Linked DNA regions of Homo sapiens: regions 1 and 3 are each linked to region 2. The links come from fine-mapping of genetic effects on gene expression. A gene starts in region 2. Each other region holds a variant in brackets. All regions are shown on one strand. Distances are from middle to middle.

Region 1 (8,515 bases), 520 kb after region 2:
ATTGCGTGATGCTGAGGTTTGGGGAATGATTGAGCCTGTCACCCAGGTATTAAGCACAGTCTCCAGTAGGTATAGTTTCCTAACCCGTTCCTCATCTCTTCTTCCTCCCTCTAGTTGTCTGCAGTGTCTGCTGTTGCCATCTTTATGCCATGTGTACTCAGATCTGCAGATCTCTGAGATGGGGTTGGCATGATGGGAAGAGGACATTGACATGGCATGAGAAATTCCTGAAGACAGTAGGGACCGGAGCTTCTGGGTAGTGCTTTGTTGTAATGAGAGGAAGGACCTTTTAGAAATTGATTGGCAGAATAGACAGTAAGTAAATTGAGCGACTTTATTGAGTAGTAAATGACAGAGTAGCTTGAGGAAAGAAGAGTTGAATAACAACTTGAAAGAGACTGGGAAGAAAACAGATTAATAATGCTTATGGGAAAGTTGAAAAAATAGTTTCTACTTGTTAGGAGAGATGTCCTGGAGAGGAGTAAGGCACTCTAAGTGCCAGCCTTCCTTCCCAGGTACCAAGTTATTGTCCAGGACTCAGGAGACTGATATGGGTTTAGAACCTGAGGATCTAAATGAGGGAGATTGGCTGGGCACAGTGGCTCATGCCTGTAATCCCAGCACTTTGGGAGGCTGATGCAGGAGGATCGCTTGAGGCCAGGAGTTCAAGATCAGTTTGGGCAACATAGCAAGCCCCTATCTTTACAAAAAAAATAAAAAAAAAAAAAATTAACCAGGCGTGGTGGCACATGCCTGTAGTCTCAGCTACTCTGAAGTCCAAGGTGGGAGGATCGCTTGAGCCCAAGAGTTCAACGCTGCCATGAGCTATGGTTGTGCCACTATACTCCAGCCTGGGCAACAGAGTGAGACTCTGTATCTAAAAATAAATACATACATACATACATACATACATACATACATACATACATACAAAGGAGACCTAACAGCTAAAACATCCTGCCCAATGGGATGACTCCTTACTGGACAGCGGCAAACTGACCTGGCTTCTTGGGCCAGGAAAATCACATGAAATGGGTCTACAGCTCAGGTTGGATTCTGAGCAGCATTAAGCCAGCACTGCTTCAGCTCTCCCCAGGGCCTGATGTATGTCATGAACTTGGAAGCACCACGATTTGCCTGTCTATACTGCTGCTTGAGCCTGCTTTTGGGCTGTCCTAGTTTCTTGTGTATTCTTAAGTCAAACCCCCTCGATAAAGATGATCTGTGTGTCTTATCCACGCACACATTCAAGCCTGATCAGTTCAGGAGATGATCTCCTCTATGTATCATAAACTCAGTAATAGTTTCTAGACATTGCAAAGTAGGAAGAAAGAGACCAGAATGAACAACTAGGGAAATAGGAACACAGGGAGTCATTTGAATAATAGATTGTTATTGACGCCAGGCTAGTGGACACTTGCTGTCTGGAAGAAGGAAAAAGTTAGCTGCCTTTTTGAGCGATAGGGGTGTGGTCAGGTTGAAAGAGCCCTGGAGTGAGACCCCAGAAGATCTAAGCTTTACTTCTAGGGAGCTATGCAACCCCTTACTTGGCCCCAGTTTCAATTCAATTCTAAATTTACAGAGTCCTTCCTCTACGAACAAGATTCTGGTTGGTCAGGCTTCAGAGAAGCCTGAAATGAATGAATTAGGCAATGCCGCATAGGTGCAGCAGAGTGGAGAGGCTGGGGTTTCAAAGACAAGTGCACAACAAACCCTACTTTAAGCAGAGCAAGACTGAGATGAGTGCTCTCTTTGGGTAGAAATCAAGTGTTATGGAATCCCCACGATGACTGTTGGATGAGATGGGTCTCTGAATGTAAATTTGCAGGTTCTGCTCTTCTCTGCTGGAAGCAAGGGTTATCTCCATCTGCTTCCTGACACTGCTGAAATGCGAGGCCTGTCAGGCAGAGGGGCAATGAACTCTTGATTCTGGTTCCCGGGCTGGGACTCTGAGATATGATGAAGGCCTCTTTACATGCAGGCTGACAGAGCTGGTGAAAGACGGACAGGGAGTTGTAGAGGGAAAGGAGAGGATGTGGGGTCGCCCTCTTGTCCCTTTTAGTCGGCACTGGTCTTAATCAATGAAAGAAACCTCAGCGCCAGCACTGGAATCCTCCCTCAGCTTAATGTATTAAAGTGTTTTACAACCTCCCTTTGCTCTCCCGCCTTCCAGTCCCCCTGTTTCCTCCTTATCTATTATTTCCAGAGCTAAAGAAGTGAGGCAAATAAACTTCAGTGGTGGAGGGTTTCTTTCTCCTTTCCTCCCTTTGCCAGTTGGGAGCACGTTTCTTAGTGGGCGTACACCATCGGATTCTCTCTGCCTCTGCCTCTAACTTTCTCTCTCTTTCTCTGTCTTCCTCTCTCTCCCTCTCTCTGTGTCTGACTCCTTCTATTTTTCTCTTCTCCATTAGTCTTTGTTTCTCTTTCTCCACCCTGCACCCCTGAAATCTGTTACAATAAGACACAGGATCTGAAAACCCACGTGATTTTATCTCTGAAATTTGCAAACAGCAAACTAATTCGATGCAAGAGAAATGAAATGTTTTCATATCCTTTTAATTGCTGGACTCCTCTGCATCTTCTCAAGCACACATTTTCCAGACCATAAAAATGTTTGATTCTAAGTTTGTTTTGATTTTCAACCAGGGGCAGCAAATATAACTTTTTTCCCCCCTGTGGAGTCACTGACAGCTTTACTCAATTTCCAACCTATCCAAGCACTTTCCTTAAGAAAGAGTGTTAAGGTTTTTCCTTAAAATCACCATTTGCAAGGGAGGGGGAGATTGCTTCTCTGGTGAAATGCACTGATTGGACAGACTCTCGTGTTGGCTACAGTATTGTGGTTTTTGCTTGAGGATGAAAAACAAGTGGGTGGGAATATAATTTCTCTCTTCAGCTGAAAGCTATTTTGACTGTCTATTCAGGCAGTCAGTTGGGTGTATTCATTCATCCATTCATTCACTATTTCAACAATAATTTATTTAGTGGCTACTAAAAGACAGGTTCTGTATTCCAGATTTCCAGTTATTACTTAACTAGCACAGGATGCTGATGCCTTCAGTGACTTGGCAGATAGGACCATGTCAAGACAAATTAGCTTAAGGGCAAAAATAATTTATTACAGTTTCAACATAATGGTAGAAGTTTCAATTAAACAGAAAGTTACAATTCTAAATTTGTAGGCACTGAATCACATATAAAGCCTAAGTTAACAGTTTTAAGGATAAATCGAGGTTTTAAAACATCTCTCTCTTGGAATTAGTGATAGATTCACTAAAAAATCATTGGAGACATAGATGATTTGAACAGCACAATTACCAATATTAATCTACTGAGAAATGTACATACATATATATGTATGTATGTGT[G/A]TGTGTGTCTGTGTAAAATGTGCCCAGTTCCTGGTCAATACACATTCTTTTTAAGTACTCATAGGCCAATTTATAAATTGATGACAGTTGGCCCTCTGTATCTGTGGTTCCACAACTTCAGATTCAATCAATCTTGAGTAGAAAGTGTTTGAAAAAAAAAAAAAGGTAACAATAAAACAATGAAAACAAAACAATATGAAATAATAACAAAGCAAAAACAATGAAAAACTACTGATTAAAAACTACAATATAACAACTATTTACATAGTATTTACATTATATTAGGTACTATAAGTAATCTAGCGATGATTTAAAGTGTATAGGAGGATGTGTATAGGTTATAATCAAACACTACTCCCATTTTATATGAGGAACTTGAGCATCTTTGGGTTTTGGAATCCACGGGGGTCCTGGAACCAATGCCCCTGAGGGACACCTATACTTAACAGGTCATAAAGCAAGCTTACAAATCTCAAAGTCCCTAGCACGATACAAATAAACCAGAAATCAGTGTTTAAAAGATAAACTTAAAATAAATCTCTTATCATGTAATGTTAAAAAAGACCCATGGGCTGGGCGTGGTGGCTCATGCCTGTAATCCCAGCACTTTGGGAGGCTGAGGCGGGCAGATCACCTGAGGTCAGGAGTTCGAGACCAGTCTGGCCAACATGGTGAAACCCCGTCTCTACTAAAAATACAAAAATTAGCTGGGTGTGGTGGTGGGCGCCTGTAATCCCAGCTACTCGGGAGGCTGAGGCAGGAGAATGGCTTGAACCCGGGAGGCAGAGGTTGCAGTGAGCCGAGATCGTGCCATTGCACTCCAGCCTGGGCGACAAGAGTGAAACTCCGTCTCTAAATAAATAAATAAAACATAAAAAGGACCCATGGCTCAAAGAGGAAACCATTGTGGAAATTAGAAAATAGTAAAAATTGAATAAAACAGGAATATTATATGTTGAAACTTGGCAGACATAGCTAAAGTCATATTGTAGAGTATAATTTCTAACCTTAAATGCTTACCTGGAAAAAAAAGAAAGGCTATGTATCTATCTTAAGAAGATAAGAAGAAAGAAATAATAAGATAGAAATAAGAAATAAAATAAGAAACAAAGACGCAAAATTATCAAAGCCAAAGCTGCTTAAAATGACAAACTTTTTGTAAGATCAATAAAAAGAGAAATGACAATATCTGAATGAATGAAGTTCATAACTGCTAATGCAGCAGAGATTACATTTTACGGGAATACTATGATCAACTTAATGTCAAATACTTAAAAACTTAGGTTAAGTGGAAAAATTCCTAGAAACGTATAAATTTTAAAACTGATTTAAGTAATAAACACCTGAAGGGCCCTATAATTTTTAAAGAATTTGAGTCGGTAGTTAAAAATCTTCCCACAAAATAAACACCAATCCCAGATGTTTTTATAAGTAGTTTCTACTGTATATTCAAGGAACAGCTAGTTTCAAGCTTATACAAACTCAAAGAATAGAAAGAGACAGAACATTTTTCACCTATTTTATGAGACAAATGTAATCCAGATTCCAATAGCAAACAAGGACATTTAGGAGAAAAAAAGATCCCCAGACCAATCTAAAGACAAGAATCCTAAATAGCAAACCATAGCAAGCAATGAACAAGTACTGTTTATTTCTAGAATGATTGATTTAGCGTTATAAAATGTACTATGTCATACCTCATATCAGTAGTCTTGAGAAAAATCCTGTGATCATAATAGATTCAGAAAAAGCATTTGAGGAAATTCATAAACCATTCATGATAAAATCTTAGCAAGCAAGGTTTAGGATGGAAATCCCTGTACCGACAGCCAACATCTTATGAGTAGAGAATTATGAAAAGCCTTCTCTTTAAAAATCAGGCATGAAACAGGGGTGGCTGCTCTTGCCGCTGCAGACCAGCAGTGCTCTGGAGCACAAGCCGGTGTAAGGAAAGTAGAAAGTGTAAGAATCAGAAAGGAAAAAAATAAAATATTACTATTTGCAGATGATACGGTTTTCTACGTAGAAAACGCGAAAGAATTTACAAAGCATGAGAAATTTCACACACTCACAGTTGTATCAGGCAGGGTCTCTACAGGAAATAGGTGGCAACTCCAACGCAGTTGAATGACTGCAAAGGTCTGGGCGGGGCGAAGGGATACCAGCGAAGATGATCAAACCCCCGGGCAAGTAACAGCCAGGGACCCTCAGGCCTGGGAGGCAAGAATGGGAAGCAGAAGCTGGAGCGAATTTCAGCTTTAGCTGGAGCTGCAAGCGGGAGGTGTTTGTTTCAGGAGAAGAGCACAGTCACTGCCTACCGGCTGCCTGGTAGAGAAGGTGCTGGGAAGTAAGACCCAATTCACTCTTTTTATTTATTTATTTATTTATTTATTTATTTATTTATTTATTTAGACTTTGTCTCTCCCTCTTTCACCCAGGCTGGAGTTCAGTGGCTCAATCTTAGCTCACTGCAACCTCCACTTCTTGGGTTGAAAGTGATTCTCCTGCCTCAGCCTCCCAAGTAGCTGGGACTACAGGCGCCTGCCACCATGCCCGGGTAATTTTTGTATTTGTAGTGGAAACGGGGGTTTCACTATGTTGTCCAAGCTGGTCTCGAACTCGTGACCTCAGGTGATCCACCCGCCTCAGCCTCCCAAAGTGCTGGCATTACAGGCGTGAGCCGCTATGCATGGCTTTTCTATTTTATTGTTTTGTTTTTTGTTTTTGAGATGGAGTCTCCCTCTGTCACTCAGGCTGGAGTGCAATGGTGCGATCTTGACTCACTGAAACCTCTGCCTCCTGGGTTCAAGCGATTCTCGTGCCTCAGCGTCCCAAGTAGCTGGGATTACAGATGTGCGCCACCACACCTGGCTAATTTTTGTATTTTTAATAGAGACGGGGTTTCACCATGTTGGCCAGGCTGGTCTCGAACCGCAGACCTCAAATGATCCGCCCGGCTCGGCCTCCCAAAGTGCTGGGATTACAGGCATGAGCTACCATGCCTGACCTCCAATTCACTCTTCTTCTGCCCTCTGATCTCCCACCCATTGCTTTCTACTTCCAACATTCCAGGGAGTCAGGATCCAGAGAGCCTGTCGATGCTGTCCACAGAGTCAGTCTCCTGGGCACATGACATGGTAGGAAGGATGGAGGGTACACTTGGAAAGCAAAGGCAGGATAACCCAGATGCATCTGACAAACGCTGTGCAGGTCCTTCATGCAGAAAATTATACAATTGTATTCAGTTGTAATAAAAATGCTAAATAAATGGAGAGAGAACCATATTCATGGTAGAAAGACATAATAAAAATGGCAATTCTACCCAAAATGATAAGATACTTAATGCAATTTTAGTAAGAATGCCAAAAGGATATTTTGTGCAGAACTTGATAAGCAAATTCTAAACTTAATCTATTTTATTTATTTGTTTTTTTGAGACAAAGTCTTGCTGTGTCACCCAGGCTGAATCTCGGCTCACTGCAACATTTGCCTCCCGGGTTCAAATGATTCTCCTGCCTCAGCCTCCTGAGTAGCTGGGATTACAGGTGTATGCCACCATGCCTGGCTAATTTTTGTATTTTTAGTAGAGACGAGGTTTCCCCATGTTGGCCAGGCTGGTTTTGAATTCCTGACCTCAGGTGATCTGCCTGCCTTGGCCTCCCAAAGTGCTGGGATTACAGGTGTGAGCCACTGCAATGGTGATAAAATTTAAATAGAAGAGTAAATTGATAGGAATAACCAAGGAATAACCAAGACAATCTTGAAAAGAACCAGGTGGGACATGTACAAGATATCAAGATTATCTACAAGATACTTGACGTCTACAAGATATCAAGACTTACTATAAAGTTTTAGCAATTAAGATAGTGCCTATTAGCCCAGAGAGACAACAGGAATGGAACACAGAGCCCAAGAAAAGGCCTGCCAAATATAGCAGTTTGATCCACGACCAAGCTGATAATTGCAGATCAGTGTACAAATGGCAGATTATTCAACAAGGGGCACCAGGACAGTCGGTCATGTGTATGGGAAAAATCACGAAAGCCGTCTCACAGTCTGTTTTCAGATGACAATGCTGAAGTCAGAGGGCAAGGTGGATTACAGTCCAAAATGTGAAAGGTAAAATTTTAAAGTACTTGGAAAAAAATATAGAAAGAATATCTTTATGACCCTGGGGTAGAGCAGAATTTCTTTAACAAGCACAGAGAGCACAAATCATAAAGGAAAATATCAATAAATTCAATCACAATAAAATCAAGATCTTCTGTCCAAAAGACATCAATGAGAGACTGAAAAGACAAGTCATAATCTGAGATATACCAGCACATAAAGGACAAAGGATGAGTATTCTGTAATATAAAGTATATTCTGTATATTATATACACAGAATACTCAACCTTTTATATAAAAATATGTATACAGAATACTCATCTGTTTAAATGTTTATAAATTAATAAGGAAAAGATAAACACTCCAATTTAAAAAAAGGCAGAAAATATGAACAGGTATGACCTAGAGGAAGACATAAATAACTAATACACAAATGAAAAATGCTCGACCTCACTGGTTATCAGGATGATGATAACCACTATGAGACATCACTACACATCCTCTACAGTGGCCCAAATCAAAATGTCTTGCAAAGCCAAGTATTGGCAGGAATGTGGAACAAAGGGAGCTTTCAAACACTGCTGTGTTTGTGCAAGTTGATAAAACCATTTTATAAAATAATTTATTAGGAATTAAGTCAAACACATGCCGACCCTGTAAGCGAGTAATTAGACTGTCTGTGACATACAAAAATGGCAATTTCATGTGGTTCAACCTAATATATACCCTAAAGACACTCTTGCACCACTTTTGATCTGGAGACATGCATAAGATTCTTCATAGCAATATTGCTTGTGATAATTCTAAAAAGAAAACAACCTGAACTCAAATGTCCAGTGATGGCAGGATGGATAAGTATATTGATGTATACTAAGTAATGGTAGACTTTATATCACTGAAAATGAAAAACCTATACTCGATACAGGTCAAGAACAAAGTGTATGAAAAAAGAGAACCAAGCAAAACAAAAAAAGCCCTAAATTGCGGAACTTATATATGATTCAACAACAGGCCAAACTCAACAATATGTTAATCAG
Region 2 (8,515 bases):
CTTCTAGCTAAGAAAGTCCGAGACGGCATCTTCTTCCAATATAAGGCTGTTTCATCTACACTGAAAATCTGTTGTTCAGTGTAGCCACCTTCATCAGTGATCTTAGCTAGATATTCTGGATAACATGCTACAGCTTCTATATCAGCATTTGCTGCTTCACCTTGCACTTTTACATTAGGGAAGCAGCTTCTTTCCTTAAACCTCATGAACCAACCTCTTCTAGCTTCCAACTTTTCTTCTGTAACTTCCTTACCTCTCTCAGCCTTCATCGAATTGAAGAGAGGGTTTTGCTCTGCTGGCTTAAGGGAATGTTGTGGCTGGTCTGATCTTCTATCCAGACCACTAAAACCTTCTCTATATTAGCAATAAGGCTGTTTCACTTTCTTATCATTTGGACGTTCAGCAGAGTAGCACTTTTAGTTTCTTTCAAGAACCTTTCCTTTGCATTCAGAGCTCGCTTGTTTGGTGCAAGAGGCCTAGCTTTTGGCCTGTTTCAGCTTTTGTCATGACCTCCTCACTAAGCTCACTCATTTGTAGCTTTTTGATTTAAAGTGGGAGACACGCGACTCTCCATTCACTTGAATACTTAGATGCCAATGTAGAGTTATTAATTGGCCTAATTTCAATATTGTTGTGTCTCAGGGAATAGGGAGGCCTGGGGAGAGGAAGAGAGTTGGGGAATGGCCAGTTGGTGGAGATATCAGAACATATGTAACATTTATCAGTTAAGTTCACCATATTATATAGGTGCAGTTCATGGAGCCCCAAAACAATTAGAATCGTAACATCAAAGATCACTGACCAGAGATCACCATAACAGACAGAATAACAATGAAAAGTTTGCAATATTGTGAGAATTACCAAAATATGACAGAGACACACAAAATGAACATACACTATTGGAAAAATAGCACCAATCGACTTGCAGGGTTGCCAACGAACCTTCAGTTTGTAAAAAACACAGTATCTTCAGAGAGCAAGCCTGACTAACAATTTCCTTCACTTTAAATTCAAAATGAAGGAATACCCTTTCCTTCCGAATGTATCTCATTTAACAAAATTCAAGACTTTTTTTTTTTTTTTTTGAGACGGAGTCTCGCTCTGTGGCCCAGGCTGGAGTGCAGTGGCACGATCTCAGCTTACTGCAAGCTCTGCCTCTTGGGTTCAGGCCAATTCTCCTGCCTCAGCCTCCCGAGTAGCTGGGATTACAGGCGCCCACCACCACGCCCGGCTAATTTTTTCTATTTTTTAGTAGAGACAGGGTTTCACCGTGTTAGCCAGGATGGTCTCAATCTCCTGACCTTGTGATCCGCCCGCCTCGGCCTCCCAAAGTGCTGGGATTACAGGCGTGAGCCACCATGCCTGGCCAAAACTCAAGACTTAAGTCATTCATTACAATTTTGTCTGAATTGCAATTAGGAGAGAAACAGCTGCAGTACCTTTGTATCTTTGTCAGTGAAATGTTTATAACAAGGAAAAACAAAAATCTGTTTGAAATCTCCAGTAAGCGCCCCCCAGTGCACCATCTAGTGGAAGTCAGGTAGTGTCATAATTAATTTAAAGAAAAAAGTCACAGAAACTCTGAAAACCATTGGGGGAGGGGGAGAAGTCAAAGCTTCAGGTAAGAATACAAGCAAATACTTTACAAACAGCCAAAATATCTTTCCAGTGTCCCACAATGCAAGAGGGCTGGGCTTATGAGAATAAATGATTCATTTTCTGTATAATCAACAGATGATAAAAGTTCCTTTATGGAAATTTTTGCTTGGGTGCTAGAAATTTTGACAGGAGAGTAAAAGTTAAATAAAGCCACTAAAACATAAATAAGTAAATAAATGCTGGGCTAGAGTGACAGCCTTGTGTAAGAAGAGTTGCCTTATATGTTACATGAATATGTTAAAATGTACATGTGAAACAGAGGTATTAGCCACAAAACAAGAGATAACTTCATGATTAGAACAGTTACATTCAGGCTGGGTGCAATGGCTCACGCCTGTAATCCCAGCACTTTGGGAGGCCAAGGCAGGCAGATCACTTGAGGTCAGGAGTTCGAGACCAGCCTGGCCAACATAGTGAAACCCCATCTCTACAAAAATATTAAAAAAAAAAAAATAGCTGGGCGTGGTGGCATGCGCCTGTAGTCCCAGCTACTCAAGAGGCTGAGGCAGGAGAATCACTTGAACCAGGGAGGCAGAGATCACAGTGAGCCACAGCACTCCAGCCTGGACAACAGAGTGAGACTCCACCTCAGAAAAAAAAAAAAAAAGAGTTCCATTCAGTAATCCATAAGACATTTTCATGTTCCTGATAACTAGTAAATTTAACAAAACCTAACGATTCTCTAGAATTCCCTAAGCCTTAACATCATACAAGCGGCTACTCCCAACTACCCATTTCAGCCTGTCCCACACTAATGCCCAAACTCCTTTGGTCAAGTTATTCTAATTAAGAAATTATTCTTCAATCCGTCTATAAATTTACAGTAAACACTTCCCGAAACAAAGTCATAAGTCATGATCAAAATGCATTACACTTCATTAGTATTTTCCTTCTGCATATCAATTATTTCTATTCAATTCAAAAAAAGGTACCGAAATTCAATGCTGAGCTAGAGATGCAAACACAAATAAGGTTCTCTAATTTGGAAAGCTTCCCAAAATTTAAAATAGAGATTTTCACACAGCATTCCTAACTTTTGTTTGTTTTGCCTGTGTGGAAAATTACCTTTCACCTGAAATTCAAACTAGCTAAGCAACCTGAATGGAAAGAAAAACCTCGCAGATAATATTTCTTTACTTGAAAATAACCATCTCCACCTCTGACCTGTGTATACGGGATCAAATTGGTATGCAGAAGTTGGCTTGATGGCGGGAATCTTACCCAGATTTTGGATTAAATCCATTATAGGTATAAAATAAAGTAGGAGTAAAGTGGGGCAGGATTCCTTTCATTTCTAGGGCTTTCAGTTGACATACCTGTAAAATGGACATGCTATGCACAGCCTGCCTCAGAAGAGTAGGAGGATGGCATACTATATAATTGATAGAGTGCTATGAGCTTCACGATTAAATGGAAATACTGTTTTTATAGAACCAGAGTGAACCTGAGCATAGAAAACTCTCCAAGGGCCATCGCTGTGACATTACCGCTAAAACTCAGTGACCTTCATCAATTCACTTGTAAACAAGCAATATATTGAGCAAGTCAAAGGAAAGGCAGCAACAATTCAAGATACTTCTTTATAAGTAAATCAAATTACGTAATTAATAGCCCAGGATTTACCTGCAAACTATTACTGCCTGACTAGCAGGTGCATCCCCAAAGCCTCGAGTACAGAGACTGTTTTTAGAGAGCCCCCCCTTTTTTAAATGTGAATATTGCTTTTAAAAATTAGAAAAAGAAAAAAATCACAATTCTACTCCCACCCATGGCACAGTGACAGAAACAAGGTCCCACCCCCACAATCCTTTCAAACCTGCACAGGCATTCCTCACGAACACTCCTCCCCCTCATTCCTACCTCACCGCTCCCCACTTCAGCCCAGACAAAGCTGAGTTACTCGGCTGGGTCTACCTGTCACTTAAGAAAAAGCCCCCAAATAGATTCACGCTAAATGCTGCTTTTAATTTTTTAAATAGCAAATAAGTAAATAAATAATGCTATCGTGTAGATTACACGGCCAAACGCCTGTTCTCAGAAAACATGTAATTAACACGACCCAAGTGAAGACGCCTTTCTGGCTTAGGGAAAGAAAAAAAAGAAGCCAGCCAGCTTATCGCTCCCTTTCAGTCGGTTCTTTTCCCCGGGGAGCCGGACTCTGACTCAACTCCGCAGTTTTTCCTCCACCTGTCGGTTCTCCCCGCTCTGGGTCTGCCCCGCCGCCGCCCCCGCCCGGAGTCCCGCGCGTCAACAGGGGTCTCCAGGGGTCCTCAGGGTCCCGCCCGAGGCGGCCCCGCCCCTGCCCCGGCCCCGCCCCCACCTCCTCACAAGGTGCCCGCCGCGGGCTCCCAGGCTGAGGCGCCTAGAGGCCGGCAGGAGGCTCCGGAGGACCGCGGCACCGCTCGGCCCGGTCGCCGGCGCAGGGAGCAGCTTCGGGGGCCGACCCCACCGCCCGAGCCTAGCCCTGGGCTCCGACAGGCGCTCCCCAGAGGCGCCCCATTACCTGCTCTGGGCTGCCGCGGTCCGCGGGCAGGAGGCGCACTCGCTCTGGCCCCTGCAGCCCCGGGCCCGGAGGCAAGGAGGCAGCGACCGCCACCGCCGCAGAGGACAATCGGGAGCCAGCGGGCTCGGCACCGCCGCGGCGGGCGCAGAACGCACGAGCCCAGTGGGAGCCCGGCCCCCGCCTCCAGCCCGGCTAGTAACCAACACGGCCCCCACCCTCGGAGGGGCGGGACCGCGGTTGGAGGGGCGGGGCGGGGCTGCACCGCCCGCGGGTAAGAGGGGCCTGCTGATAGGCTGCGAAGGCGATAGGCGTCTCAGACTTGAAGACGCCTCTCCAGCAGAACTCCCTCATTGGTCGGCAAGAGAAAACAAAGCTGGGCTCTGATTGGTGACAGCTCTGTAGCTCCTCCTCATACCCGCAGTCCCCGCAAGTTCCACCCCTGCCCGCCCGGTTCGCTCGCCCTTGGTTCCCACTCCCAGGTGGCTGCAGACTGGAGTGTGTTTCATGGACGAGCAACCTCCCTGAGGAGAACCCCGGATACGCAGGTTCATTCGCCAGATGCGAGTTTTCTTAAGCCGCTGCGATTCTCTGATTTCAGTATGAACTTGGTGAATAACGTAATCTTTAACTTCCTTTGGATTCAGACAAGTCTCCTAGGTTTAAAAATGCTGCATAAGATTGAGAGGGATATTGTTATGCACGAAAAAAGACATAAGGTGTTTTCACCTTTGGCGACACTGTAGGTGACTTTTTCTTATTACCTTTTTGTGTTCCATATTGAACATGTACTACATGATTAGAAAAAAAAATTCTTAAATAGAAAAATGAGTAGGGTGCGGAGAATGGTAAAGACAAACTTTAAGGAAATCCAGAGAACTGATTCTTTCACAATAGAAGAAAATACAGTAAACATGCTTAATATCTGAGGGCTACCCCGAAAAAACATGAACTGGTATCAGCGCCCTTCAGCTCTCTTAAAGAACTTTACATATGTGACCGAGGTGCCCCCATACTCCTTCCTATCATGTAACCAACACATAATGTGGACAGCACTACACTGCAAACAGAATTACAGGAAGACTCTTATAGGAAGAATTAGAATCCAAAGTACACAATCAATAAAGCTTTAGAAAAAGGGGTAGTAAAAAGCAGAAGACAAAAAAAAATCAGGTAATATAAATTGGAAAGCTCAGCTGATGGAGGGAATCATCAGAAAAAAAATAATGTGACAACACTTCAAGATGTGATAGAGACTTTGAATGGAAAGCTGAAGGGAGAGGAAGGGGATTGAGATAAGGATCAATGACCTGCAGTTAATATGAGCTCTCAGAACACATCCCCCAGAACTGGTGTCAGCCTAGAAGGCAAGAAGCATTTCTCACCTAGGGACCACTCTCACTTAACTCTCTCTAGCTGCCTTAACATTCTGTTTGTTCTTGTCATTCTCGCAAAGTTCTAAAACAGGCTATTTGAAATTAAGCACTTCCCCCCAGCAACTCCGTGAATTACGTAATAGTGAAAAATGGAGATAGACAAAAAGCAAACCTGAGGAAGGAAAGGAATGTTAAGGTAAACATAAACTTAAAGAGAAGTAAGGGCAAAACACCTGATAGAAAGAAGACAAGAAATTCTTTTTTCTCTCTTACTTCCTGAGAATAAAGTAAAGGTCTTTGGAGGACAGAATAACCTTATTGCCTAACAAAAAGAGTTTTTACCAAACCTTTCTAATAATAACTGTAATTCTAAACTGTAGTCTAAAAATACGTGTCCTAAAGTAAGTACTTTGAGCAAATAGTTTTGAGATCTAATATTTTTACATTGTGTAAGGAAAAGAAGAGGAACTTAGCCTAGTATGAACAAACTGTAGGGAATACCCTTCAAAAGTTTCTTCTACAATAACACCTGAAATTCCATCACTAACATTCTTTCACTGGGATTAAATAATGTATGTCTAAGATTATTCTTTTATTCATTTACTCATCAAACGTAATCAATATTAATCATCAAATACTAGATACTGCAATGAACGAGGCTTTCTACTAAGCACTCAGAGTATAGCCTTGAACAAGACAGACTTGCAGCTGTTTTTATCAGAAGATGGACAATGATCCAATAAAAAGATAAACTTCCAGACCGGGATCAGGGCAAAGAAGAAAACAGTGACCAGAGGGATGGGAGACACACTTAATTTTGGGAAAGGAGAAAAATGCTTTAAGGAGAAATGATCTAAGAGAAATGCTCTAAGATTTGAGGCACCACCTAAATAAGAAAACACCAACTTAGCAAAACTCCAGGGCAGATAAAATAGCAAGAACAAAGGACTTGAAGTAGGAAGAAAAGTGATGTATAGCAGGAACAGAGAGAAAGCCAGCATGGGTATCATGGTGCATAAGGAGAGTGCTACTAGACAGGTTGGAGAAGGAGGTGAGGACCTCGTAGGCAATGGTAACTTTGTATTTTGTTACAAGGATTCCTGACGGGCAACATCGAGTTGCTGATAGTGGAGTAAAATCATTATTTTTTTTTTTCCTTTTTCAGAGTCACCAGTAAAATGAGCATTCATTCATTAAGCCAATCATCAGGAATGGATCTAGGAAGAACCTACTGTTTACTAGAAATAGGTTAGATCTGTGGATATAACAATGAATAAGACAAGACTGGTGGATCTATAGAGAAACTATTACTGCACAGGTGATGGGGAAATCAAGAGTACTATGGGGCCAAGGAGACTGTCCTGCAGCAAATGAGGAATAAGCTGAAACATCAGTAGGAGCCATCCCAGAGAAAAGGGACAGGGTTCTAGATCCAGAGAACAACAGAAGAGCATTCAGCGCCTGCAAGGGAGCAGGGGATCTAATGCAAAGCCATTGCATAACCAGTCAACTTTCCCCACATCACAAGATTGCCTAGCCTGGATGGCCCCAGAATGTTGAAACAAATGTCTAATTAGTAACGACATTCTGAATGCTTGGGAGCTGAGCAAAATATGAGGAGAAGCAACCTGATTTTTGTTTCATATTATCATCTCCTTTATTCCAGCAACAAAAGACACTGAAAATAGTAAATGCCCACTTTCAACCATGACAGCCCTTTTAGGATAGTAACGGTGAGCAGTATTAATCCTATTTGACCAGAACTAGGGCAGAATTGAAGCCCCTGGAGTAGAGATCTGTTCTATTAGCCCCAGCCTTTCCGCCTGCTTCTTGGGATGGCTATCTTTACTTTATCAGTTGAGCCTCCAGCATTAGCAGATACCTATAAGGGAAGAGATCCAGCCCTCACTATGGAGGGCCAGAAAGAGAAAGCACCAGACATTAGGAAATGTCAAAGTATCTCAGTACATCCAGCTGATTAGTGACAGATAAGTCAAAATTTGCAGCAACTAAATAAATCAAAAAGTAGATTTTAAAATGTGATCTTTGAAATATTTGGCACAATGCTTCAAAGCCACTGAAAAGCTATCTCTTCACCCTAATAGAGGACAGAAATTCATTAGATAGACAGAAGAGGCTGCATACAGTAGCCCATGCCCATAATCTCAACAACTTTGGAGGCCAAGGTGGAAAGATTACTTGAGGCCAGGAAATCAACACCAGCCTGAGCAACATAGCAAGACATCTTTACAAAAAATTTAAAAATTAGCCAGGTTTGGTGGTGTGCAGCTGTAGTCCTAGCTACTCGGGAGGCTGAGGTGGGAGGATTGCTTGAGGCCAGGAGTTCTAGGCTGCAGTGAACAGAGATTTTGCCACTGCGTTCCAGCCTGGGCAACAGAGTAAGACCCTGTCTCTAAAATAGATGATAGATAGATAGAGAGAGAGAGAGAGATGATAGATAATAGATAGTTGATAGATAGATGATAGATAATAGATAGTTGATAGATAGATAATAGATCGTTGATTGATAGATTAGATAGATGTATAATAGAACCCAAAGGCAAAAATAAGTTAGTCCTCAGGAAGACCCAGATCGCAGACCTGAAAAGCCAGGAGGAACTCAATGGAATTTTTTTCCATAGCAGGTGCTCTCTCTACACCTGTGCTCTATTCTCCTATTCTGATAACCAGCCCCTGGCTCCTATGTCCCAGTGTCAGAGAAATGATGTTCCAGAGCTGCACCCACAAGGACTAAATCACCTGCCTAACCCTAACCCTAATCATAGATGATGGGGGCTGCAGGGGACCAGTATGGCTGCCAGGGCCCATCCCTGTTTATGAGCAGAGGTTTCCCAGAGAAGACACACTGGGCAGATTACCAGACACGCATTCATTGCACCCCTGACATTTTCAATCGCCAGTCAATGAGGCTTCCTTTCTAGTTACTGAAAGTCTTCACCTGCTGTTTATAGTAAACTGG
Region 3 (8,515 bases), 75 kb after region 2:
AAAATTACAAACCAGGCCATCATTTAAATAAACAAATACATTCGAATGGAGTTATTTGAATAAGAAAACTCCTCCATCGACATAGTCTAATTTATGAAATTGTCACTGAGAAAAACATAAATGAAAGAAGAAAAATTGTAAGAAAAAAATCAAAATCATTGGAATAGATTAGACAAATAAGAGACCATTATGGACAATTTATATTTTAAAATAGACAAATGCACATTTTCAAAAAATTAACAGCAGAAGAGATACAAAACTGGAAAAAAAAAAACAAAACAGGAATGTATTTCCCTGACCTGGGTCCCACTAAATCCTCCCATGAACATTCCAATGAGAACACAGTTTCCATCTCTGTAGCTTGAACTCCTACCCTTGGCTTCCTCCCTTTCTCCATCCACCCTCTCTTTGCCCAGCACAGACCCCACCTCACCCCACAGCCCTTCCTGCACCGCCACCCCATCCCATCCGCCCCTCCAAAGCTACCCTGGCATCTTGTGGAACTCAGGCTCAATTATAAACAAGTTTCCTTACAAGTTAATGTATTCTATTAGTCATTTACTTTTTAAACTATTGTGTTAATTGTGAATAAAACAGAGCAAAATCCTTGTTCTCTGATAACTTACATTTTAGTTGTGGAAGGCTGATAATTATAATTATGATATAAATATATAGGTACAAGTATTATACATAAAATATATAAATATATAATATAATGCATAATACATAAATTCATAATCAATATATTTCCAAATGGTTAGCATTTCACCATTCAGGTGCACTTACCCTTCTGAGACCTTACAACTACACAAGTTCTGTCTGCACACAGGAGAAATTTTATTCTGGAACTCAGCTAAATGCTACTTGAAATTTTTTTTTTTTTTTTTTAACGGAGTCCCTGTCACCCAGGCTGGAGTACAGTGGCACTATCTCAGCTACTGCAACCTCCCCCTCCCAGGTTCAGGCAATTCTCCTGCCTCAGCCTCCCAAGTAGCTGGGCCTGGCTAGTTTTTTGTTTGTTTGGTAGAGACAGGGTTTCACCATATTTGCCAGGCTGGTCTCGAACTTCTGACCTCCAGTAATCTGCCTGCCTTGGCCTCCTAAAATGCTGGGATTACAGGCATGAGCCAACGCGCCCGGCCTAAAAACACTTTTTTTTTTTAAAGGTGCAATCCGCCATGTGACTTTCTCTTAGTATTGAATATTTTTGTTGCATTAGTTTTAACTTGATGTTGGAATGTTATTCCTGTAGCAGAAAATACTACACAGCTGTCAACTGTGTTCCTTAGTGCCTAGCCAGAAAAATATTTGGAGGCTATTTCAAAAGTCCTTCTTCATTTATGTGGCTTTGCTGATCAACTTTTCAATCAACTACTGAAATTATAGTTTCCAGTGAAGAGAGAGAGAGGGGGTAAAGTGGTGGGAAGTAACCCATCTAGATGTGCAATAATATCAGAAAGAATTTTCGAAGAATTTATTTGGATTCTAGAAGATAAAAGGAACTATCTCATTCTCATTCAAAAAGATTCTCAGAACAGTGAAGACTTTTAAAATACATGTGTTTCTCTCTCCCCCCCACACACAAAAAAACGTTAAAAAAAAAAATCATAATCAGTTGGTGATAAGGCAACCGGAGAAAAATAAAGCAGGCACTGAGTCTCCTTAGCGCTAAATTTCTGGCTGCCTGAAATGCTGTCAACAATTGCTGGATGGAGTTTCTTCTGCCTCCACCCCCTGCATTTTGCCAAGGTCACCTATCACACCTTTACCTAATTATCTAGAGCAAATATAGTTCACATGTAGATATAGTAATGCATTTAATCCCTATAACAAGCCCATGAGGTAGATATTATTATGTCAATGTCACTTTTTTTTTTTTAACATACACAGAAACTGAGATACAGAAATTAAGGACATTTCTTAAGGCATCACAGATAGAAAGTGGCTGAACTGGAATTTCAAGCCCAAATGCCTGTCTCCAGGGTTCCTGCACTTTACCACTTCAAGTCTGTCCACACTCCCGCTGAGTCATCTCACAGCCACTCCTCCAACTGACCTCCTCTGCTTCAAAATGTTGAGGTATGTTCAGTCTTCCCTATATTTAGAAGTTGTCATTCCTCTTTTCCAAGCCTCTTTTCCTGTGCCTTTACCCTACTTTGTACCTCCAATTATATACCCTTCTTTTACGAGGCACTGTCGTAAAAATTAATATGCCACGTTTTTGCCCTGCTTAGTACATGAACCCTTGCTTTAGTTGTCCTGAGGGATCTGTAAACCTGGAAGGAGATTAAGATTATTGTCACCAAAGCAGGCCGGGCATGGTGGCTCATGCCTGTAATCCCAGCACTTTGAGGAGCCAAGCGGGCAGATCACTTGAACCCAAGAGTTCAAGACCAGCCTGGGGCAACATGGTAAAGCCCTGTCTCTACAAAAACTACAAAAATTAGCTGGGCGTGGTCATGTGTGCCTGTAGTCCCAGCTATCTGGGAGGCTGAGATGGGAGGATCGCTTAAGGCCAGGAGGTAGAGGCTACAGTGAGTCGTGATTGTGCCACTGCACTACAGCCTGAGCAACAGAGTGAGATCCTGTCTCAAAAAGAAGAAAAGATGGTTGTCATCAAAGGAATGGCAACAATTTCTAAAGAGAGTCATGGGTCATCCCCTGTAGCCCCTACTCTTGCCCACCTCCATCCCTGCATTTAATCCGCTAGGCTCTATGGAATCAGCTCACAAAGGTCTATTGTGCGAGAAAGCCCTAAGCAATGTAAGGTTTAGCAGAGCTCCAGGGGACCAAGCCAGGAAGCAGGAGAAGGGGGCAGTGGGTGGGGAACTGTGAGAAGAGGAGAGAAAGGCGTAAGGCTGGGTGATTCTGTGTTCTAATGCTCCCCTTCCAGGCTCTGCCCTGGAAAAGGGGAAGAGGTCAGAGGAGAGGCTCCTGCCCACTGCCCATTTAGGACTCCAGGGGTTCAAAGGTGTTACACTGTGAGATTCAGCCACATCAATTGGCTTCCATGAACAAACTCCATCACACCCTCCCTATCTTTCTCATTTCCTCTTCTGATTTTTTACCTCTTCTTCCATCTCTCCTAGTTCCACTTCCGTCTTTCAGTCTTTGCATGCGGGTGTTCTCCAAAGTTTTGAACTCAACACTTTTGTGATCTCATTTTTTTTCTTATGATATGAACTGTCACCTGTAGACAGATGTTCCCTAAATCCAGATGTCTGGTTATAACTTCTCTCTTTTGAATCTCTGTATTGTATCTCAAGCCCTCTTAGATACTTCCACCTGTTCTCTTTGCCTGTAACTTCAATTTGATACAATTAAACCCACATCTATTCCTGCCACCTTCCAAACCATCCTTCCTTCTTTCCTGTAAATGTTAAGGGCACCACCACTCTTTGTAAATTTCCCTACTTTCTATGTTGAGTGAAAATCTTCAAACCATTCCAACACACGTTTACAATAACTTAGTAAAATGCCCAACACATATAATTACTATATGCCAGATGCCAAAGGCTTTCCATATAGTAATACATTTAATTCTCACCACAACTCTATGAGACTGCTACTATTATTACTACCATTTTATGGCTAAGTAAACTGAGGCATAGAGAGGTTGTCACCCAGCTAGTTAATGGCAGATGTTGGCATTTGAACCCAGGCAGTCTGGTTCTGCCATGTATTCTTAATAGATGTCTGTATTCTTTTATTTTTTATTTTATTTATTTATTTATTATTTTTTTTGAGATGAAGTCTTGCTCTGTCGCCCAGGCTGGAGTGCAGTGGCACAATCTCAGCTCACTGCAACCTCCACCTACTGGGTTCACACCATTCTCCTGCCTCAGCCTCCCGAGTAGCAGGCACTACAGGTGCCCACCATCATGCCTGGCTAATTTTTTGTATTTTTAGTAGAGATTGGTTTTCACCGTGTTAGCCAGGTTGGTCTCGATCTCCTGACCTCGTGATCCGCCCACCTTGGCCTCCCAAACTGATGAGATTACAGGCGTGAGCCACCATGGCCAGCCGACGTCTGTATTCTTAATTCTTATTACGTAATAAGGCCATGTTAAATAAAAAAACTGATATAAAATTGTATACATAACATAATCACAACTAGTAAAACACACAAGCAAAACACAATGTAAATAATTAGGTAAAGAAAAAAGACAAGAACGAAATATACCAAGATATCAATAGTGGCTATACTGGTGCAAAAAGGACTGAGAACAATTTTATTTTTTATCCTCTATTTTTTTTTATTTTTCCAAATTTCCTATTATGGGTATAATAGTTATAATGAAAAATAAATTAATACATTTTATTTTTAAGTGACTGCAATCAATTGAAACATGGAAATACAATTGTGGCATACTTCCCTCTCTCCAACAAAAAAATAACTTATACATCTGAATCTTGCATTCAACTTCACCATTCTAGTTCTGGCTATTATTTTCTCCCACCTACTTATAGACTCTTATATTTATAACCATCCTACATGCTGGATTAATCTTTTTTTTTTTTTTTTCTCTCTGAGACAGTCTTACTCTGTCACCCAGGCTGGAGTGCAGTGGCATGATCTCGGATCACTGCAACCTCCGCCTCCTGGGTTCAAGCAATTCTCCTGCCTCAGCCTCCCAAGTAGCTGGGACTACAGGCAGCGCCACTGCACCCAGCTAATTTTTGTATTTTTAGTAGAGGCCGAGTTTTGCCATGTTGGCCAGACTGGTCTTGAACTCCTGACCTCAGGTGATCTGCCTGCCTCAGCCTCGCAAAGTGCTAGAATTATAGGTGTGAGCCACCGCACACAGTCTGGATGAATCTTTTAAAGGCAATGTTTTCTTTATATCACTTCTCTATTCAAGAGATTTCTACCTTCCTGTTAGTCATGGAATTCTACTCAGGCTCTTTAGCCTGGCATTGAATTTGTCCGCAAGCTGGCCCTAACCTTCCCTGCAACCTTTTCTCCCATTTTTTCCCTGTATGTTTCCCATGATCCTATCAGTTTCATTTCGTTTCTTTTGCCTTGGTCTCTTCTAGTTCCATGCAGCTCCTCAGGTGGCGAGGTAGCCCTGACAGAGGTACATCAGCAGCCTGCACCCAACTTCTGGAGTGTTTTGGATTGGCTTATGCTTCTCAGGGACCCAAGTCCACTGGCCTGGTCAGATCTCCTGTGCTCCTGAGCATGGCCCTGCCCAGTAGCCTTCCCTGTCAGTCAGTGCTGGGAGCCAGGGAGCCAGGAGGAAGTCAGGAGGGAGCCTTCCTTCCAGAGCATTGCCAACCCTCTTCCAGA[C/T]GAGCAATCTGCCTAGTTTGTGGGTTCGTTCTGCTCTTTGTGTTCTATTTTTCTTCACGTTTTTCTGGCAGAAATGATGGCTTGGTGTTCTGCACAAGTCTAGCCAGGTTCAAGCTGGATCCTTCCCAGCCCTCTTGACTTCTGTATTAGACTAACAACTCAATTTCCGAAGCATAGGACTCTGCTCATTGAATTGGACCTCACTGAACGACCTGACCCATGCCCAAGGACACTGGGTCCTAGAGATCGCAGGACTTGAGCTACTTAAGTGTCCGCGCTGAGCCCTGGCTCTGCTGCCTCAGAACCTCTCTTCCAGATCTGCCCCATCACCCTGCCAGCCTGCATTGCCAAAATTGCATGTCAGGGTAACTGGGAGCTTTTCTGAGATTAAAGTTTCTCCCAAAATATATCCTCCTCAATCTTTCCTGCCCCTTGAGCCTTGGATTATGTCGTTCCTTTTGCTCAGAACTCTCCTATGAACACTTATAACTTTTCTGCCTTTTTTTTAAACCCCCTTTTTATTGAGACAGGGTCTCACTCTGTCTCCCAGGCTGGAGTGTGGTACTGTGATCATGGTTCACTGCAGCTCCAAATTCCCAGGCTCAAGCCATCCTCCCACCTCAGCCTCCCAAGTAGCTGGGAGCACAGTGGCATATGCCACCAGACCCAGCTAATTTTTTTTTTTTGTAGAGATGGGGTCTCACCATGTTGCCCAGGCTGGTCTTGAACTCCTAGGCTCAACTGATCCTCACGCCTTGGCCTCCCAAAGTGCTGGGCATGAGTCAGTGTGCCTAGCCTAAAAAAATGTTCTTTTATTGTGGTAAAATATACATAATATATAATTTACTATTTAAATAATTTTTAGGGCAGAGCTCGGTGGTTCACACCTATAATCCCCAGGGCTTTGGGAGGCCAAGGAGGGAAGATTACTTGAGGCCAGGAGTTTGAGACTAGCCGGGGCAACATAGCGAGACCCTGTGTCTATTATACATAAAAATTAAAGTAAAAACAAAATTAGCTGGCATGGTGGTGGTACCTGTAGTCCTAGCTACTCAGGAGCCTGACATGGGAGGATGGCTTGAGCCCAGGAGTCTGAGGCTGCAGTGAGCTATGATCACGCCACTGCACTCTAGCCTGGGCAGAGTGAGATCCTTTCTCAAAAAAAAAGGAAAAGAAAAAAAGAAAAATTAATCATTTTGAAGTATATAACTCAGTGGCATTAAGTACCTTCACAGTGTTACACAACCAACCTTCACCATATTCATTTCCAGAACTCTTTCATCATCCCAAACAGAAACTCTGTACACATTAAACAATAGCTCTCCATTTCCTCTCCCCACAGCCGCTATAACCTTTAATCTGCTGGTTTTTTTTTTTTTTTTTTTAGACAGGGTCTCCTCTGTCCCGCAGGTTGAAGTGCAGTGGCGTGATCTCAGCTCACTGCAACCTCTGCCTCCCGGGCTCGAGTGATCCTCCCACCTCAACCTCCCAAGTAGCTGGGACTACAGGCGCACACCAACACATCCAGCTCATTTTTGTATTTTTCATAGAGATGGTGTTTCACTATGTTGTCCAGGCTGGTCTCAGACTCATTAGCCCAAGCAATCTGCCCAACTCAGCCTCCCAAAGTGCTGGGATTACAGGCATGAGCCACCATGCCTAGCCTTTAGTCTACTTTTTGTTTCTATGAATTTGCCTACTCTTAAGTACCTCATATAAGTAGAATCATACAATATTTGTCCTTTTGTGTCTGGTTGTATTAGGGTTCTCCAGAGAAATAGAGCCAATCGTAGATAGATATAGGCAGAGACAGAAAGAAGGAGATTTATTATGAGGAATTGGCTCATGATCTTATAGAGGCTAAGAAGTCAGCCGTTTGTAAACTGAAGACCCAAGAAAGCTCTTGTGTATTTCCAAACTGAGTCTGAACGCCTGAGAACAAGGGGAATCGATGGTGTAAAGCCCAGTCCAGAGACAGGAAAAAGACCAACGTCCCCTCATGCTCATCCCAGAATAAACACCCAGCAAATATTTAATGTATTAAATACATGAGACGTTAATGAGTGACTCTAACAAATACAAATCAGAATCCTTCATTTTTTGACATTTGTATTGAAAGCGCCTAGTTTTTACTTACTAATTTCTACAATTTTTTTATTTTAAAAACTCTTAAAGAAGCATGTGTATATTATCTGATGTCGTTTTGCCAAAAATAATAATCTATTACAATCCTATAATAAGCTAGATATTATCTAATTATTCTATTAGGTTGAAATAAGCCAATGTTTGTCAGAAGGAAAAACTGACCCATGTAAGTGTTTATTTCAAGGGTTTTTCTTAACTGTGGATATCTGATCTTTGAGAGCTGCTGGTTTTAATTCTCATGCATCCTTCTGAGAAGTCACATTCTCAGAAGTTATTTAATTATGGAAAATGAAGAAGCCATAGGCTTATAGCATGAAATTCTAAACCTTGCCTGTCATAAATGTTGCTCAACAAAAGTTTCATATTTTGCAAACCAAGTGTTCCTCAGTAACACTCAACTACATAAGTTATGCTTGTCAGAGAGCTAATGGCATGGAAGAAAGAGGAGAAAAGTAAGGAACATTTAATAATAACTGGAAATGTACATTATTTCATGTCTTTTTTAATTCTATGATTCTTTTGAGCTGAAAAACTAAATGTGAAAAAGCAATCCAAAAAACAGTTTGAAATATGTTAAAAGTGAAGACAGAGATTTATATTGCAATACCCACCTCAGCCTTAACTGCGCTGTCTTCACCACAATCCTATAATTGTCTCATAAACTCCAAGCAAAGACCAAACGTTGACCACTGCTTTTCTCAGCAAAAAACATGGGCCTGAAATGTATCATGCAAGGTGTTACACTGCCACCTGCTGGTACGCCATCAATATGCATGGGAAAGAAAGGATCCAACACAGGACCTTTTTTCTCCTCCTTTCTCTCTTAGGGGTAATCTCCCAGAGGAGACAACGGTAAACTAGAAGAAAGGGAACGTGGAGGCCATTTTTCTTGGTCCTGGCAGTATAATTCAGCCTCCGAGATCTAGAAAGATTCTTTTTTTTTTTCATACGGAGTCTCGCTCTGTTACCCAGGCTGGAGTGCAGTGGCGCTATCTCCGCTCACTGCAACCTCCGCTTCCCGGGTTCAAGCAGTTCTCCCGCCTCAGCTTCCCGAGTAGCTGGGATTAGAGGTGCGCACCA

Which allele goes with the higher level. Positions count from the first base shown, and alleles are read on the strand shown. Sizes are in standard deviations (SD) of each study's normalised expression. Not every link is listed here.
In carriers of allele A in region 1, the expression in lymphoblastoid cells of the gene that starts at base 4,366 in region 2 tends to be lower than with G alone (large effect, 1.3 SD a copy in GTEx).

What was found. PIP is the estimated chance that this variant, and not a neighbour inherited with it, causes the effect.
Region 1: its variant is fine-mapped to the expression of MPP7 in lymphoblastoid cells (GTEx, PIP above 0.99).
Region 3: its variant is fine-mapped to the expression of MPP7 in cerebellum (GTEx, PIP above 0.99). The same link has a PIP of 0.9 or more in cerebellar hemisphere.

What each region holds. Positions count from the first base shown.
Region 1 is chr10:28,820,951-28,829,465 of GRCh38, forward strand. No RefSeq gene overlaps it. Among named protein-coding and RNA genes, the nearest start is that of C10orf126, 21 kb to the right of the region's middle. The variant G/A (reference allele first, on the strand shown) is at 3,369.
Region 2 is chr10:28,298,699-28,307,213 of GRCh38, forward strand. It overlaps MPP7 (MAGUK p55 scaffold protein 7), which reads right to left and starts at 4,366. Exons shown (of 17, transcript NM_001318170.2): 1 at 4,163-4,366. It overlaps MPP7-DT (MPP7 divergent transcript), which reads left to right and starts at 4,471. Exons shown (of 2, transcript XR_930772.3): 1 at 4,471-5,731; 2 at 6,701-7,573. RefSeq lists a silencer at 3,913-4,552.
Region 3 is chr10:28,373,879-28,382,393 of GRCh38, forward strand. No RefSeq gene overlaps it. Among named protein-coding and RNA genes, the nearest start is that of MPP7-DT, 75 kb to the left of the region's middle. The variant C/T (reference allele first, on the strand shown) is at 5,291.